2 separate regions of the Homo sapiens genome follow, and region 2 is reported to be linked to region 1. Evidence: microRNA targets listed by miRTarBase, many of them from high-throughput screens and not tested one by one. Region 1 holds a microRNA gene; the other region holds the end of a gene's coding sequence.
What was found. Region 1 holds the annotated microRNA hsa-miR-324-5p (CGCAUCCCCUAGGGCAUUGGUG, at 2,051-2,072, opposite strand). A microRNA usually pairs through its seed, bases 2 to 8, with sites in the 3' UTR of a target mRNA and lowers its output. Matches are read on the target gene's strand: a 7mer-m8 pairs with bases 2 to 8, a 7mer-A1 pairs with bases 2 to 7 and ends in A, and an 8mer does both.

Region 2: miRTarBase lists USPL1 as a target of hsa-miR-324-5p. Seed matches in the 3' UTR shown: 7mer-A1 at 8,438-8,444 and 7mer-m8 at 7,677-7,683.

Annotation. Positions count from the first base shown.
Region 1 is chr17:7,221,293-7,228,426 of GRCh38, forward strand. It overlaps MIR324 (microRNA 324), which reads right to left and starts at 2,087; the gene lies at 2,005-2,087. ACADVL (acyl-CoA dehydrogenase very long chain) reads left to right here. Exons shown (of 20, transcript NM_000018.4): 7 at 246-390; 8 at 660-789; 9 at 885-1,010; 10 at 1,375-1,573; 11 at 1,841-1,945; 12 at 2,352-2,438; 13 at 2,521-2,583; 14 at 2,676-2,777; 15 at 2,854-2,951; 16 at 3,029-3,101; 17 at 3,188-3,260; 18 at 3,350-3,422; 19 at 3,517-3,592; 20 at 3,665-3,974. The coding sequence ends at 3,805. It overlaps DVL2 (dishevelled segment polarity protein 2), which reads right to left. Exons shown (of 15, transcript NM_004422.3): 10 at 6,685-6,752; 11 at 6,363-6,491; 12 at 6,112-6,243; 13 at 5,798-5,977; 14 at 5,129-5,347; 15 at 4,050-5,021. The coding sequence ends at 4,573. RefSeq lists an enhancer at 3,664-4,163.
Region 2 is chr13:30,656,693-30,668,090 of GRCh38, reverse strand. It overlaps USPL1 (ubiquitin specific peptidase like 1), which reads right to left. Exons shown (of 9, transcript NM_005800.5): 9 at 7,325-10,617. The coding sequence ends at 8,735. Among named protein-coding and RNA genes, the nearest start is that of TRN-GTT2-4, 12 kb to the left of the region's middle. RefSeq lists enhancers at 8,170-8,289, 8,030-8,789.

The sequences.
Region 1 (7,134 bases):
TGCCTAACAATAGACTGACTAGTAGCAAGTCACCCTCCTACCTAGACCTAAGACAGACCAGCATTCTCTGCTGTGCCCTTTGCACACCCCACTTCTTTTCTACACACTGGGGATGGCCCAGGTCAGGCACTGCCCTAGGTCAGGAACTGCCCTAGGTCAGGAACTGCCCTGTTGCCCACACTCTCCTGTTAAGGTCAGGTCCCCCTGCAGCCAGTGACAACCCCAGATTCCTGCTTCCCCTCCAGTACGCCCGTTTGGTGGAGATCGTGGGCATGCATGACCTTGGCGTGGGCATTACCCTGGGGGCCCATCAGAGCATCGGTTTCAAAGGCATCCTGCTCTTTGGCACAAAGGCCCAGAAAGAAAAATACCTCCCCAAGCTGGCATCTGGTGAGGCAACCCTAGGAGAGCCAGGGATTGGGGGGCACACTGGGCTTGGCACAGATTAGGCCAGTTGGCACTTAGATTATCAGATGGCTGAGCATTTCAGTTGGGGGAAGGTTTTGGGGAGGCATCACAGTGTGCTGGTTGGGACATGCAAAAGAACTGGATACTCCCAGGTGTTAAGGGGGAACTGCCTGCTGGAGGGATGGGGAAGTGGGCCGAGGGGACTTTGAAGCTCATCAGAACTTGGGGTAAAGTAGCTCTCTCCCCAACAGGGGAGACTGTGGCCGCTTTCTGTCTAACCGAGCCCTCAAGCGGGTCAGATGCAGCCTCCATCCGAACCTCTGCTGTGCCCAGCCCCTGTGGAAAATACTATACCCTCAATGGAAGCAAGCTTTGGATCAGGCAACCTGCCTCCCATTTCTCCCCTTCTCCTCCGCCCAATTCCAGGCCCCACTGCTCCCCGTCCTCCACGCCCTGAATATCCCATTCTTCCACAGTAATGGGGGCCTAGCAGACATCTTCACGGTCTTTGCCAAGACACCAGTTACAGATCCAGCCACAGGAGCCGTGAAGGAGAAGATCACAGCTTTTGTGGTGGAGAGGGGCTTCGGGGGCATTACCCAGTGAGTGAATTTGGGTTGGGGGAGCTTAGGACTGAGGGGCAGGACTGGGCTCCTGGGCAGATGGCTGTTGCAAGTCACCCTGGGGACGTGTGCAAAAGCCAAAGCAGGTGGACTGAATGTGGCCTTTGGGACTAATATGTATGCAACTGAGCTAAAGTTTTGGCTCCAGCAACCAAGTCCAACACAAAATAGGACATAGCCAGGCCTCCTTAGCCCTCAGGGCCTGAGGGGAAGTGGTGGCTGTAGCCTCTAATAGTCTAGTGGTCGTCATTCCTCCCTGGTGCATAAGGAGCGAAGGAGCAGTTTTTCCCCCAGTGACAACCTGTTGAACACACCTCTGCTTTCCCACACTGCCCTGACACAGTGGGCCCCCTGAGAAGAAGATGGGCATCAAGGCTTCAAACACAGCAGAGGTGTTCTTTGATGGAGTACGGGTGCCATCGGAGAACGTGCTGGGTGAGGTTGGGAGTGGCTTCAAGGTTGCCATGCACATCCTCAACAATGGAAGGTTTGGCATGGCTGCGGCCCTGGCAGGTACCATGAGAGGCATCATTGCTAAGGCGGTGAGTACCCTGCCCGAGTCCCTAGGTAACCCAAACAGAAGTCTCACTGTCCCCCTTGCCATGTGTCCCTGATCACTTGCAGGCACTCCCTACACTAGAAACTCCTCCCCTACCAGCAGCCCGACTTGCTAGCTTAGGTCTCCATCCAGCGTAGACTGAACTCTGGTTGTATGCAAAACCCATCCCTCTGGCGCAAGCCCAGCCCCTCTCCTAGGGAGACTGCAGAACCACACTGAACCACAGCGGGATGTGTGGACCCTCTTCCAGGTAGATCATGCCACTAATCGTACCCAGTTTGGGGAGAAAATTCACAACTTTGGGCTGATCCAGGAGAAGCTGGCACGGATGGTTATGCTGCAGTATGTAACTGAGGTGAGGGCCTCCCAAGCCCCTCTCCCTGGAGCCCTGGGGCTTTCTTCCCAGTCGGGTCAGACTACAACCCCCAGCAGCACCTGGGGCAGTGGGTCTCCAGCTTTACACCAATGCCCTAGGGGATGCGGGGAGGCATAGTCAGCTCAGCTTCTGCGAAGAGAGACAGCAATGATGTTCTGCTCAGGTGCCTGCCAGCAGTACCAGAAGTTAATTCTACCTCATCCCTTACATCCACCCCTTTTAAGAAAACAAATACCTGGAAGCACCTGATGAACTGACCCAGAACAAGTATCTGCCTGACCTGACAAGCTAGGTCAGCCCTTATCTTGGAGATCTGGGTGATGAGGCCAAGTCTGACAAAGCCCTTTGCAATTTTCCTTCCCATGTCCCAACTATGCAACCTCAGTCCATGGCTTACATGGTGAGTGCTAACATGGACCAGGGAGCCACGGACTTCCAGATAGAGGCCGCCATCAGCAAAATCTTTGGCTCGGTGAGGTCCCAGGCATGCTGGGAGGGAGTCCAGTTTGGGTGCTCAGCTCCCAAAACCAGTCTCATCTGTTCTTTGTCCCTAGGAGGCAGCCTGGAAGGTGACAGATGAATGCATCCAAATCATGGGGGGTATGGGCTTCATGAAGGTACAGGACGGTCTTCTGCAGAGCCTCGGCTGGGCCAGGGGTGGGTAGGCACATCTCAGCACGGGCATATAATTTGTGTGGCCCTGTGCTAGGAACCTGGAGTAGAGCGTGTGCTCCGAGATCTTCGCATCTTCCGGATCTTTGAGGGGACAAATGACATTCTTCGGCTGTTTGTGGCTCTGCAGGGCTGTATGGTAAGACAGAGAATTGGGTGGGGGTAGAGGTGGGGAGGACAGTGAGTCCTGACTGCTGGACCCTCTTCCCCCATAGGACAAAGGAAAGGAGCTCTCTGGGCTTGGCAGTGCTCTAAAGAATCCCTTTGGGAATGCTGGCCTCCTGCTAGGAGAGGCAGGCAAACAGCTGAGGCGGTAGGCTTAGGGCCAGAGCCAGGGGAGGGCAGGGTGGTGTATGGCAACTAACCAGTCATTCTCCCTCTTCCTCTCAGGCGGGCAGGGCTGGGCAGCGGCCTGAGTCTCAGCGGACTTGTCCACCCGGAGTTGAGTCGGAGTGGCGAGCTGGTAAGTGGCCAGGGGTCCAGGAGAGCCTGCATCAGGGACTGCAGCCGATGGCCCCTCTGAGCCCCGCACTGTCCCCATCTCTTAAGGCAGTACGGGCTCTGGAGCAGTTTGCCACTGTGGTGGAGGCCAAGCTGATAAAACACAAGAAGGGGATTGTCAGTAAGTGAGCTCTACACCATTCCGCCCCTCCCTTTCCTCTCCTTGAGACTAATGCCCCCACCCCCACCCCCACCCCACCTACCGGACAGATGAACAGTTTCTGCTGCAGCGGCTGGCAGACGGGGCCATCGACCTCTATGCCATGGTGGTGGTTCTCTCGAGGTGAGGAGGCAGGCAGGGAATGCCTGAGCCGCAGGGGGCCTGGGCCTGGATCCCAGCCGGCCCAGATTTATTTTCATCTCCTGCTTCCTGCCAGGGCCTCAAGATCCCTGAGTGAGGGCCACCCCACGGCCCAGCATGAGAAAATGCTCTGTGACACCTGGTGTATCGAGGTGAGACTCGGGGCTGCCAAGCTCAGGTGAGGGCTGGAGGTGCAGGCCCAACCCCTCCTTCCCTCTCCCCAGGCTGCAGCTCGGATCCGAGAGGGCATGGCCGCCCTGCAGTCTGACCCCTGGCAGCAAGAGCTCTACCGCAACTTCAAAAGCATCTCCAAGGCCTTGGTGGAGCGGGGTGGTGTGGTCACCAGCAACCCACTTGGCTTCTGAATACTCCCGGCCAGGGCCTGTCCCAGTTATGTGCCTTCCCTCAAGCCAAAGCCGAAGCCCCTTTCCTTAAGGCCCTGGTTTGTCCCGAAGGGGCCTAGTGTTCCCAGCACTGTGCCTGCTCTCAAGAGCACTTACTGCCTCGCAAATAATAAAAATTTCTAGCCAGTCATGCTTTGCTCCTGTGTGACGGTTCTTTCCCCCTGCTGCCTGCCTCCCTCCCAAAGAAAGGAGCCAGAGGCGTGGGGAGTTTGCCTCTATTGCTTTATTTGGTGTTTTATACAAGTGACTAAAATAAATAGAGTAACAAAGGCAGCTACATGGCCCAAATCTCCCAGCTTCCTCAGGCTGCTGTCTAGGATGCCTAACCCCGGGGTACCGCTGACCACCCCCAACCCTGCAAAGGGCAGGGCTGTGGGTAACTGGAGGAGGAGGTCACATTCTGGGGTTAGAAGGGGCCCAATGGATGGGAATTCTTCATATAAAAGAGGAAATGCCTATTAAAAAAGTCCCAAAAATGTAAGAAACTCTATTTTAACCCCCAAAAAGGCTTATAAAAAAACAAAGCTAAAAATAATCAAAGGTCCCTTGTCTACCCCTGAGGGAAGGGGGAGGAACCAGGCACTGCTGGTGAGAGTCACAGTGGCCACAATCTCCTGTATGGCAGCAGCTGGTAGGCTGAGCCCAGGCACTGTAAGAGCAAGCACATGACGGCCAGGACACCCAGTCACACACCAGGAGCGCCCGGCCCAGCCTGGCCCCACAGTGGGCTACATAACATCCACAAAGAACTCGCTGGGATTGCCCATGGCCATGTGGAAGCTTTGGCGGCTGGCTGTCAGTTCTGGGGGCACAGAGCCCAGGTCTCTGACTGGAGGGGCCCCCGGAGGCTGCACTGCTGGAGGGACTGGAGGTGGAGGTGGGGGCATCATGACCACCATCATGGGGTTGTAGGGGAGGGCCATGCCAGGGGGCGGTCCATAGGGATGGAGCCCTGGGTGGGCTCGGAGATTAGGGGCACCCCCAGTTGAGCCTCTGGATGGAGGAGGGCCCCCATCGCTAGTCCCACTTGCTTCCCCACCCCGCCGAAGGCTGCCCCCTCGGCTGGAGGGCTCAGACTCACTGCCACTGCCGGACTTGGACTCGGGGGCCCGCTCCTCGGGCCTCCCCGTGCGCCCTGCCCCCCCATCACTCCGTGTCGACCCACTGCTCCGGCTGCCTGTGGAGGGAGGGGAGGGGCAACTGAGTCCTCACCCAGGCTCCTCCCTGGCTCCCCTCTCATCCACCCTCAGATCCTGGCCGTACAGGTATGTGGGGATGACTTACCCTCACTATGCTGGCTGCTGGCACTGCCCCCACCATAGGTGTAAGATGAAAGCTCATGGTAGGGTGGAGGCTGCGGGCTGTAGGGGTGTGGGGCAGGGTATTGGTAGGAGAAAGTGGGCAGCAGGGGCCAGGGGGTGGCCCCAGGCAGAGGAGCCAGGGTATCCTGGTCTGAAGCCCCACTGGAGCCATCGTTGTCATTGAGAGACAGGTTGACTAGGTCTGGAAAGCAAGGGAAGAGAGGAAGAAATCACTGCTTCAAGAGGCTAGGGCCCCAAGACACCGAATGGAGAGGAACTGGGAACAGTTCTCCCAGACCCACCCACGATGGGGCTCAAAACAGGGGTTCACAAGGGTCTCTGACAAGAAACTCCCATCTACTTCTGCCATGAGGGCAGGGGCACAGCCACTAGCCCACGTCTTTGCGGGACTCAGGTAAGAGGTGCACCTTCCCCCGGTGGACACAGTCCTGCACCTGGCACATGGCTTGTCCAGCAGCACATGGGTGGACGTCAGCCCCCATCCTCGGCCAGTGCAGGACCTAGTGCGGGACACACACTGCTCGACCATCCATGGTGGCCCTGGCTGCGGTTTCTGGGCTAGGTCTAGGGTTGGAGAGGCAGAACAAGGTAGGCAAAGCCACACTCCCAGAGTTGGGGCAGGGGGACTTACAGCTCTCACAGCCACCACTGAGGTCTCCGAAGACGTAATAGCACTGCTCAGAGAAGGTGATCTTGTTGACGGTGTGTCGGATCAGGCCTGCTTTGAGCAGCCCGCTGGCATACTTGCGGGCCTCCCGCCGCTCAGGAAAGCCCTCCACGTGATGGTAGAGCCAGTCAACCACATCCGAGCCTGGGAGCACCCACAGTGGAAAAAGGCCTCAGGTTCTTCTTCCAACTCCTGCTCTCGCCTCTGCCTGTGCCATTCCTGGCTTTGGTCACCACCTCCTCCCCTTCTCCAGCCACCTGCCCAGGACCCAGCCATACCCAGAAAGGCATTAGGGATGGTGATCTTGAGCCACATGCGGTCCCGGACTTCCAGTCCAGACTCTGGAGCTGCCATGGCCTTGGTCACCGATGCCATGTCCGTATGGACGGAGAGACCCCGGCCTTCACAGCCTGGCAGAGGAGACAACGGGTAACCAGAGTCAGGGATCGCTCCCACAAGGGCAATGGATCAGACCACTGCGGGACAGCCTTCTGCTGGGAGGGTGGGATGAGGTGGGCTGGCGGCTCACCATCAGGCAAAGACGATCCAGATGTAATGGTGCTCATGGAGGAGGAACCTGGATAGGCTGGGAAGGTGCCAGTCAGAGCCGCGGAATGGGACACCCAGGCAGCAGGGTCAATTGGCTGGATGGGCTCATCTGGGACAAAGATGGCACCAAAATGACCCATTCTCAGTCCCCAAAAGCCAGCCCAGTCCCTCCCTGACTCAGCCTCCTGTTCCACCTCTGCCTGGACCCTCCTCCCACCCATTCCCCATGACCACAGGCCCGGCCCCAGCCTCCTGGGCAGCCCCCACCCCCAACTTCAGGCCCCTCCCTGAGTGTCACTCACTTCGGGGGAGAGTGAAATAGGCCTGAGGAGAGGGATCCCAGCACTTGGCCACAGTCAGCACAATGGGGCTATGGGGAAGAGAAGTCCAGTCAAGGGCGCAGGGGAAGAGGAGGCCTCAGGAGGGCGGGGGTCTGAAGCAAGGATGGATTAAGAGACACAAAGAGGGGGAGAAGCAAGCACATCGCGGCTGGGCTAGAGAAGGTGAGGGTGGAAGGCACCACAATGTGGATGACTCATCAACATGGAAAACTCTTAAAAACATACTGCCAAGTGAGACAAGAGAGTACACGCTGTACAGTTCCATTCACAGAAAGTCCAAAAACAGGTAAAACGAAACTGCAGTGTTCAAGGATACGTGCAAGGGTGGTAACTATCCAGTGAGGCAAAGCTTTTCTTTGTTATGGTGATGGCCAAAGAAGTCAGGAGAGTGACTACCCCTGGGGCAGTGAG
Region 2 (11,398 bases), not on the chromosome of region 1:
AGCCGTTGACTCTAAGCTTGAAGAGGCTGTTCCATTTTGTGTTCTTTTCATCTATAGTATCCAGCAAAACTCTCTAATCAATTGTATCTTTCACTTTTCTTACTCTTTTCCTGACTTACACAGTGCATGATCGTGAAATGGTAGGTGGATGAGAGACTGGCTAAAACTTCATAGACCTTCCTCCTGGTCTTTTTTCTTCTGAAAAATTGGCATTAAATCTTTGTAATTTACACTTTTAATGTGGCGTTCAATAATGTTTCACTGAAAACTTTTCCCTGATAATTTCAATGTACTGTGGGAATTAAATGTAATAACAAATAATATGTGTTGGCCGGGTGTGGCCGGGTGTAGCGGCTCACACCTGTAATCCCAGCACTTTGAGACGCCAAGGTGGGCAGATTGCTTGAGCCCAGGAGTTCGAGACCAGCCTTGGCAACACAGTGAATTTCGGTATTTAACAAAAATACAAAAATTAGCCAGTTTCATAACCTGGTCTCAAAATAAACAAATCAGTAGAATATTTTTTAATTAAAAAATGTTATTAAATGTAGTATGAAAGATATGTGAATGGCGTATTCTAAATGGTTAAAGAATAGTGAAGGTTGTTCAATAAGTATTTGAACAATAAGTTTACTGTTTGGGGAAAAAAATAGTACAAAATAGAAACTTCAGTGTTACACATCAAAATACATTACAAATAATCAAAGATTCATATACCAAAAGAGAAAGCAAAGGAAAAAAAAAAAAGAAACGTAGTTTCATTAGAAGATATATATATTCTTTTGGTGGAAACAATCTTGCTAAAACATGATGCCAGAAGGAAAAGAATGTAAAATAATGTTAAACTTCTACATGTCGAAACATTAAAAATGATGATCAAGCATAAACCAAAATTGCCAAATGACAGAGAAGATTTAATATCGTTACACCTAGAGCTGATATAAATGAGATCCCAATTCAACGACTGGAAGTCTGAAGGGAGCCCACAGAGCTTCTCACACTTCTTGTTCAGACACACCTTGCCCCCAGTCTCTTTCTCCAAAAGATTCCTTGCCTTGTCTTTTAAACTGCCCAGGAGGCCAATCCCAAGAGAGATACAACAATTAGAACTCAGCCTCCCTCGGCTGGGTGTGGTGGCTCACGCCCATAATCCCAGCACTTTGAGAGGCAGGAGAATCCCAAAAACCCTCTCCCCAGGAGACCCCTTCATAAGTTGTACTCTTTTCTTTTTTGTTGTTGTTGTTTTTGAGACAGGGTCTCACTCTGTTGCCCAGGTTGGAGTGCAGTGGCACGATCTCAGCTCACTGCAACCTCTGCTTCCCAGGTTCAAGTGATTCTCTTGCCTCAGCCTCTCAAGTAGCTGGGACTACAGGCACACGCCACCATGCCCAGTTGATTTTTGTATTTTTAGTAGAGATGGGGTTTTGCCATGTTGGTCAGACTGGTCTCAAACTCCTGGCTTCAAGCAATCCTCCCGTCTCGGCCTCCCAAAGTGCTGGGACTACAGGCATGAGCCACTGCACCCAGCCTAAGCTGCACTCTTGATCGCTGTCACCCTGTGAAGACTGAGTCTCCCAGGACACTGAAGCCTAGACCTAACCTCGCCCCCTGACCCTCCCACGGTGCCTTTTGGAATGTGTGGTCTGTCTTTAATCCCACTGCCCCAGTTTTTTTCTGCCAACAGTCCCTTCCCTGCTGTCGTGCTAAATGGAACCTGAATATTCGCTGAATGTCCCTTTACAGCCCTGGCCAGTGGTGGCTGTCTTATCTCCCGCATTCCACATACTTTTGGGCCTGGAGATGAGAGAGGTTCTTCCTTGTTGCCATTTCAGCCACTCCCTCCCCTTCCCACTCAACCCTCCAGTGACTCTGAAACACTTTGGACTGAGCCCCTGCCCCTGCTCCTTTGGCTGTCATCTGCCGTTTTCATGGCGTTCTGCCTGTCCTTGAGGATTTTTGCTCCGGCTCACTGTATATTTCTTTCTGCTAGGGCCACTGCTGCCATTTAGATGACTTTGCCTCACACAGAGACAATCCATGTGCTATCCCAGCCTCTTGGTGCCTCTTTCTCCTCATTTTTCATGAATTCTTGCCAACTCTGGCCCTGCAGTTTCCTTGTCATACTCAGACTTTGTCATCACCTGTAACCTTGCTATCTCCAGAAGCTTAATTTCAAGCACACTACTTTCTAGCCAGCTTACTTCCTCCACAAGTGCCTCTCTGCCATTCTTTGAACCTTGCTCTGACCCACTGAGCTCTGCCACCACTCAGCAGACAGCCACTTCCTGTGTTCCTTACTTATCCATCCCTACAATCATTACCCTTGCAGGAAGCCTTATTCCTTTTCTCCTCTATCTCCTTGTCCCATCTGCCTGACAATTCCTCTACGTTGGCTGAAATTAACTTCACACTTAGTCTCTCTGTCCTGCACCTGAGCAGTTAAATACAACTGGAGAAAAATAAACCACCATCTTGGCTGGTCGCCATTAAATTGATGACCATAAACTTCCCACGGGCTCTCCGCACAGCTTAGCAAGCCCACTGCATGTCCCTATTCAATTCGCTCTCCATTCTGAGACCAATATTTCACACCTGTCTTCCTCCATGTTCAACTCCTTCTCCCCTCACACCCTCAGCTGATGATCTATTTATTTCCCCAAGAAAATAATCAGAAGAGACCGTTCTCATTCTTTTATCAGCAAATCTCTTAGCATCTGAGCCTAAGTACTTTGTCTTTCCTATTAATAAAATAATTTTTCTAGCTCTTAGGGTCACACCGCCTCCTCTTAGACACTGGAATCCCATCCCTGGAGAAGTTTGCCCCCGCAAGCGCCCCTTCTCTCACCTACAACATCCATGTGTCAGCCTCTCCCATCTTCAGAACAGTAACAAAAACCTTGACCTCACATTGCCCTACGAGGCACCAGAAAATGTTTCAAGAGTGAGTCCATAGCTCCACTTTCTCACCATCCCTTCTCTTGAGCCCACTCACACTTGTTCATGTGAAACTGTTCATGTGGAGTTAGCAGAGCTAACTTCCCTATTGCCAGAGCCAGTGGCCAATTACTCTATTACTCTTTTTCAGCAGCATCTGACAGATAATCATCCCTTCCTTTTAAAAAAAAGAAAAGCATTCTTCCTTGTATTTTCAGGGCACCACACTCCTATTGAATGAAGCTAGGCAGGCAACCATGTGACTAAAGGAAGAACATTCCAGGAAGAGCAAAAGTCAGGAGGAGCAAGTGTGCTTGGCCTTTGCCTTGGTCTGCTTGGGCTGCTATCACAAAATATCTTAGACTGGATAATTTATAAATGTTAGAAATTTAGTCTGGGCATGGTGGCTCACGCCTATAATCCAAGCACTTTGGGAGGCCAAGGCAGGCAGATCACTTGAGGTCAGGAGTTTGAGACCAGCCTGGCCAACATGGCAAAACCCTGTCTCTACAAAAAAATACAAAAATTAGTCGGGCATGGTGTCATACACCTATAGTCCCAACCACTTGGGAGGCTTAGGCACCAGAATTGCTTGAACCAGGAAGTGGAGGTTGCAGTGAGCCGAGATGGTGCGACTGCACTCCAGCCTGGATGACGGAGCAAGACTCTGTCTTGAAAAAAATATATATATATTGCTCACAGTTCTATAAACCAGGAAGTCCAAGATCAAGGCACCATTTTTGTTCTTCAGAGCTGTTTTAAGTCCCTAAATGACCCCATCCTATAACATGATCCACACATTCCTAATTCCCAAACGGCTATCTCCAGGGTGTCCCTCTCCGCTGAGCTCCAGTGTTGCAGATCTATCTTCCTATTAAATCATCTCCACTCGAAAGTCTAATAGGAATCTCACACTTAACACACTCCTAATGGGATTATCTTATCCCCTTTAAATTCTTTCCTTCCCAAATCTGACCCATCTCAGGAAATGGCACAATTGCTCAGTCAATAAAACCTGGAGTTCATTTTGACTCCTCTTCTACCTCACAGCCAATGCACATATCGTGTTGGCTCTACTTTTGAAATCCAACAGTAATCCAACTACTCTTGAACACCTCCAGTTACCACCCTAAACTCCAAGGAGATTGTAATAGACTAGGACTCCTATTCAGACCATCTGTAGACAGTCTCCCCACTTCAGTGATCCTTTTAAAACCCAGATCAGATCATGTTACCCTCTTGCCTGAAACTTTCCTGAGGTTATCTATTATTCTCAGCTTAAACAAAGTCCTCACTATGGCCTACAAAGCCATATGAGATCTGGTGTCTGCTAGCCTCTTTACTCATGTCCTAACTCTCCTTCACTGATCACTCTGCTCAACCACACTGGCCTCTTGCTTATCCTCAGTCATGCTGCTGTGGTCTCAATGTTTGTGTCCCCCCAAAATTAGTGAAGTCTAAATCCCCAATCCAACAGTACTAAGAGATGGGGCCACTGGAGAGACGGTTGAGGGCTCTGTGCCCCTCTTATGCCATGTGAGGACAGTGAGAGAACCAGCCATGAAGCAGAGCAGCTTTCACCAGAATGTGCTGATACCTTGATCTTGGACTTCCCAGCTTCTAGAACTATAAGCAATACACTTCTATTATTTATACATTTTACCCAGTCTAAGGTATTTTGTTATAGCAGCCCAAACAGACCAGACACATGCCTAGCACTCACTCTTCATGACTTTTGTTCTCCTGGAACGCTCTTCCTGCAATCACATGGCGAGCTCCCTAACTTTATTGAAGCCTCTTCTCAAACATCACCCACCTCCAAGAAACCTTCCAAGTCTACCTGGTCTAAAATACTTCTCCCTCTCATCCACTCCTCTTCTCCATAGCATTTAGTGCCATCTGACATAAGAATCAGTCCTCGGCCGGGCGCGGTGGCTCACGCCTGTAATCCCAGCACTTTGAGAGGCTGAGGTGGGTGGATTGCCTGAGGTCAGGAGTTCGAGGCTAGCCTGGCCAACATGGTGAAACCCCGTCTGTACTAAAAATACAAAAATTAGCCGGGCATGGTGGTGCAAGCCTGTAATCCCAGCTATTCGGGAGGCTGAGGCAGGAGAATCGCTTGAACCCGGGAGGTGGAGGCTGAACCCGGGAGGCGGAGGTTGCAGTGAGCCGAGATCATGCCATTGCACTCCAGCCTAGGCTACAAGAGTGAAACTCCATCTCCAAAAAAAAAAAGAATCAGTCCTCATTACTCACAGATTCCGTATTTGTGAATTCATTTACTTGCTAAAATTAATTTGTAACCCTAAAAATCAATGCTTTCAGTGCTTCTTGTGGTTATTCGTGGACATGCATGCACAGAACAGAGAAAAATTTGAGTCACAGGACGTGCACATTTCCAGCTGAGGTCAAACAAGTCAATACTCCACCTTCCTCTTTCAGTTCACACTGTAAACAAGTGTATTTTTGGGGGACTAGTGTCTTTGTTATTGTTCCTTTTTTTTTTTTTTTGAGACGCAGTCTCGCTCTGTCGCCCAGGCTGGAGTGCAGTGGCGCAATCTCGGCTCACTTCAAGCTCCGCCTCCCAGGTTCACACCATTCTCTTGCCTCAGCCTCCCGAGTAGCTGGGACTACAGGCGCCTGCCACCTCGCCCGGCTAATTCTTTGTATTTTTAGTAGAGACGGGGTTTCACCGTGTTAGCCAGGATGGTCTTGATCTCCTGACCTCGTGATCCGCCCGCCTCGGCCTCCCTAAGTGATGGGATTACAGGCGTGAGCCACCTTGCCCAGCCTATTGTTGCATTTTTTTGTGCTTTTTGTTGATTTCACTGTTTAAAACGTCCTCAAGTGCAGTGCTGAAGTGCCGTCTAGTGTTCCTAAGCACAGAAAGCTATGATGTGCCTTATGGAGAACACCATGTGTCAGATAAGCTTCGTTCAGGCTGAGTTACAGTGCTGTTGGCCATGTTAATGTAAAGAATCAACCATATAGATCAAATAACATGTCTTTAAACAGAAACAGAAAAGGTTATATAGTGATTGTTTGACAAAAATCTCATGACCACAGGCTAGCAGGAACCTATTTCCCCTAGGAACAGTATTTCAGTTTATACTAATTCAGTGTTCAAGGCAACTTTATTGACCATAACTACTACAAATGACATGAATCAACTGCATGTATCTCCTATTACTACCTAACATTATATATTGATCTCCATGTTTGGAAGGCAAACTCAAAAGGAGCAAGGATTTCCTTCTAGTGTGCTGCCTTATCTCAGGCTGATAACAGTGCTTGGTCCTTAGCAGTAATCTAGAAATATTTGTTGAAAAGATAATTAGTACAAGCAAAGGATAAGCAATTCTTAAACCCACCCCCGCCTCCACCAAAAAAAAAACAAAACAACAACTCAAGTGGACAATAGTTATAGAAAATGTTCAGGCTCACTAGTAATCTTGGAGCACCCAGGATTGGTTCCCCCCTTCCTCCCAATACTACTACCTAGTGTTGGCGAGGGCCCAGGGAAGTCAGTCATGCAATCACCAAAAAACCTTAAATGTGCATTTCCTTTGACCAAGCAACTCCACTCCTGGAAAACAAAACTTGGATCCATGCAAAAATTTATCAACAAGGCTAACTGCTGCAATTAACAATGGCAAGACAGTATAAATCACCTCAGAATCTTAAAACAGTGAAACAATGTTTATCCATTAAAACAGATACAATAGGATCTCACGTTTATTTAAAATCTATATGCATAAAATAGGAAAATGTTTGTAGTCACTAAGTATTAAAATGCATGGTCAAAAATCTTTTTTTTTGGTATTTTCCTAGTTTTTCCTTGACAATATGCACTACTTTTGTCAGAAAAAAAATAAAACAACACAGAAGCTTAGGAGTAAATCTGACAAATAGATTATGAAGTACTGAGTCCCTAGCAAATAATTTTACTGCAAGGACACTGGCTGCCAGCCTTAAACCTCAGTAAGTACTGCTGTTAACTCAAATCTCTACGGCAGTGGTGCTGTTTGGGCATCCTACTTTAAATGAAGCCTGAGGAGTGGAACATATATTGATAAGCTCAGCACTCAACTGCTGTAATAGCCACTCTACTCAATCTCAGCTCCACAACTGAATGAGTACAGTCTCCTTATCTGTAAGATGTGATAAAAGTATCTCACGCACAGGAATGTTGAGGTCTAAATGAAATAACATCTATCTCATATATCACAACCAACATCTAACAAGCCTCACAAGCACTGGTTATTACTCTCTCCCAAAACAGAACTGTTAGATGGTGTCCCACTTTGGTTACAGAAGTAAATGTCTTGGGAAGAAAGATGGTATTTGTGATAACATGTAAAGTTTGTACATCATCACAAAAACAGGTAACTTTTTTCTGCTATCATTTATTTATAGATTTATTGATCACTTAACATTACTAAAGTTCAAGTAACAAGGTTTCTTGCCCTCCTCTGTATGGAGAGATAAAGGAGATAAGTGACATAGGGAAAGTTTACATTCCACAGCACTCTACCGGTGTAACAAACAGGCGTAGGCTCTTACAGAAGGCCACACAACCATAAGGAAAACTGTCACACATTCATATACCGTATACAACTTAAATCTGCATAAACTCTTGAACTAATGATGGTGGCAGGTGCTCCAGTCAGCCTGCTATCATTCCGGCTGCAGCCTTGGAGCAGGCAAGATCTCCACCCTCCTGGGTGCGGGTGCAGACTCAGGCATCCCTGCACTTTTGGGGGCCTGCTTTTGCAGGCTCGGAAGTGCTTGCCTCTGCAGCTTGGCTTCTCCCTGCTATTGGCACCAGCTCTCAGATCAAAGCAGGGGGGTAAGCCTGGAAGCCATGAACAGGGAGGGCCTGAAGGCTGAGGGCCAGGCTGCCAGTCCCACCTGTAGGAGTGGGAACTGGTGCCTTTTCCAGGCCAGTAAGTATGCACTTCCTCCCCCGAGGCCCGTAAAATGCCCCAGGCTCAGCCAGAACTGAGCAGAGGGTGGGACGACCAGCAACAGGGAGGAGCTACCCTCTCTGCTAAGAGCTTCAGAGACCTGTAGAGACGGCAGAACAACCTGCCTATGGATAGAAGCTATCCTCTCCAGGGCCCCGTCTGAGAGCAGCAGGACCTCTGGACAATCTGCCTGCGAACAGAAGCTACCTTCTCCAGGGCTGCTTCTCTGCTGAGAGCTGAGAGGAGTCACCCTCTCCAGGGCCTTTTCTCTGCTGAGAGCTGAACACTTGAGGGACGACCTGCCCGCCGACACAGGGGAGCTGCTCACTGTGGGTCTCCTTCTGAGCTGTTCTAACACTAAATAAAGCTCCTCTTCTTCTTCTTCACCCTTCATTTGTCTGCATATCTGGACACAGGACAAGAACTCGGGCACCGTGGGCAAAGCGCCACGAGCAACAGGTTTCCAGGGGAAGAAAACCACCACAAAGATCACTCATAACACTAACATAACCAAAACTTCAAATCTAAAAATGTAATGCATCCAACTGTACAAACTGTCAGAAACTAGACGCCACTTTTCATCTTTAACATTTTGAAATCCTCATACTCTCACAAGAACAAAATGAAACCAAAAAGGAGAACACATTCAGTGATTTTAATGTGTAAGAAAGATTACATGCTTCATGGGCAGAACCAAAGGTTAAACCTTGCATTTTGTTCATGGTTATTACACAAGTAATTACACAAGTCCAGTGTATAAACACTACCTGAACACATTGTAAGTTCTTCTAATAATAATAAATATTATATGAAAAAAGTTAACAAGCATTAATTCAATAATTCTCAAACAGATATTCATCGAAATGAGGTAGGTCTAATGTGTCATTTGCTAAAGCATTTAATGCTGAGGAGGAAAAAAACTCATCGAAAATATCAGTCTTCATCGGACTCTCCAAGTTTAATGTTCTAACGCAGGCATTATTTGTCAGAGAGTCTGGCTGAACTTCACATGGATTTTTCTTGGTGGGGCTACAATAATTATGGTCCTGTCTCAGATGTGTGTTCTGGGAAACATCATTGAATTCACTTGGTACTGGTGGTGGGATATGACTATCTCCCATTCCCAAATACCTAAAGTCACCTTCCCCATTTTCTGACAGCTCTGTTGAAACAGGTGTAGGAGACAATAATTCCGCTAAAATTTCTTCATGAGTTTGACTACTGTACAGGGAAACACCAGGAACAGTGGTGCATGCAGACTCACTGGCAATATCAATTGGATATGGTAGCTCATTTAACAAGTCCTCTATTGATTCACAATCATTTGGAGACCCATCCTGGGGCACCTGTTCTAGATTTTCACTTCGAACTGTTCTGCTTTGCGGGGAAGACATAAGAGCAGCTAATTTCTTCTTTTCTGCCTTTAGCTTTTTACGAAGTTTTAGACGAAGTTTATGAATCTGACCTTCCACCAAGTCTTCATGGTTTGCTGAAGAAATACCATTCCCATAAGAACTGTGGTTGAGTTGAGCTCCACATGAGGTGCTTCCAGACTTTTCCAAAACTTCTGAAGCAGCATGAGCATGTGGGTGGGCAGCTGTGCCATTAGACGATGGAGGGCCTGCTGGTGGCTTACTGATGGGAGGAGGCTTACTTGCACTCTTACGAGCTTTCTTGGATACGTGGCTGGCCTTCTGGTTTATACCTTTAGTTTTAAAGCCACCAAAATTATTTACCCCTTTAACTGAAGGTTGTAAATCAGTTATAGTGTTTCTATTATGAGCTGAAACACAGAGTGGCATAAAAGAAGCACCCCTGCTTATTAAGCCTTTAACCCAACTTCCCACAAATGGCTTCTTCTGATTTTCTTTCAGAGACTGATTCTGTAATGACTTAGATGTTGTGGTTTGAGAATCTGCTGTAGTTTCTTTTTTCTTCAAATTAGATACCTGAGATGTGACACGTTCTGGTTTTAATTGTTCAGTTTTTGGTGTAAGGAATTGTTTTAACTGAGCGTCCTTCTCAATTTCTACTGACTTCACTCCCTGTATAAGACCAGTAGCATCAGTATTATTCACAGATTTAGTATTTACAGTATCTTCTGTATTCAGCTGTACTGACTGCATGTTTGTATTTACAACTTGGGATGGAAAACTTATGTCCACAAATTGGTCTTGAATAAGCTTTTCATTACATGGAGCTGATACTGAAGAAGCCATTAGTGATTCTTGTGATAGCAAAGTATTGGTTTTGAGAATTCCTGTATTTTCTGCTACAGGTTTATTTTCTAACAGGAAAGCTTCAGAATTTAACTGTGAAACTGAGGCTGTTTTCTGGATAGTTTCTTCAAGTGTCAGAGGTAAAATATTGTCAACCAAACCTTTTGGACCTGAAAGTAAATGATCTCCATGAGTTACAGCTGTGTCCTGTGAAAGAGTACGAGGGGCAACTGATATATCTTTAGGGTGAGTTACTGAGGCTGTTTCAGCTGAGGCAGCATCACCCACAGAACACGATGTTAAAGATACTGGTTTCTCATTACTGAGAGCGTGTTGGTCATTAGTCTTTTTAAGTGGAAGGCAGGCAGCTTCTTTATCTGTCACTTGGGATATTTTTCTTTCCCAAATAACAATATGTATCTCTGAAGCAGGAACTTCAAATTTCTTGTGCCTTTCAGAACATGGGCCTTTTAAGTCATCACATTCCAGCCAACTTCCTGGAAGATGGGAAAGAAGTGAAAGTTAGATATTCAAAAACCACCATCCTAGGTTAACTTTCTTCTGGCCTTTTCAACTGTTGTATCATTGAATACCGACCAAAGGAGAAGACTCTAAAACATGTTCTTGACCTTGTCACCATTGTCTGCCATGTTAAAGTCCTTAGATAGAGTATATTTAATTTTTGGAACTTAGAATTTGGTTATCACCTAATTTATCCAATAACATCAGAAAACAGAATGTTTCATACATATATGTTTTCATGATAAATGAAGCTTGTTACCTGAAGGATCACTATTCGTTTTAATTCTTGTTTTATTTCTGAGCTTCCATTTTCACATTTGTCAAGAGAGAATGAGATGATAGATGACAAGGGAAGAGTTTAAAAACTAGCAGTAGGATGCACTACCAAATACTGAAATATTAATACAAAACTTGGGAAAAGTCCATTACTTAAAGCAGTGTGTCGCTGGCAGTTATTTTTGCCTGAACAATTTCAATGGTGCCAATAGGGAGAGGGGTCCTTATGTAGTCAACTAAAGCATGAATGAGGAGTAAGAAGGTAACCTGTTTAAACCATTCCTTTAAAAAAAAAAAAAGACACCCATTAGGATGGATATTATTAAAAAAAAATAGAAAATAGCAAATGTTGGCAAGGATGTAGAGAAATTGGAATCCTTGTGTAACGCTGGTGGGGATGTAAAATAGTACAACTGCTGTGGAAACAGTCTGGCAGTTCGTCCAAAAATTAAACACAGAATTACCGTTAAGACCCAGCAA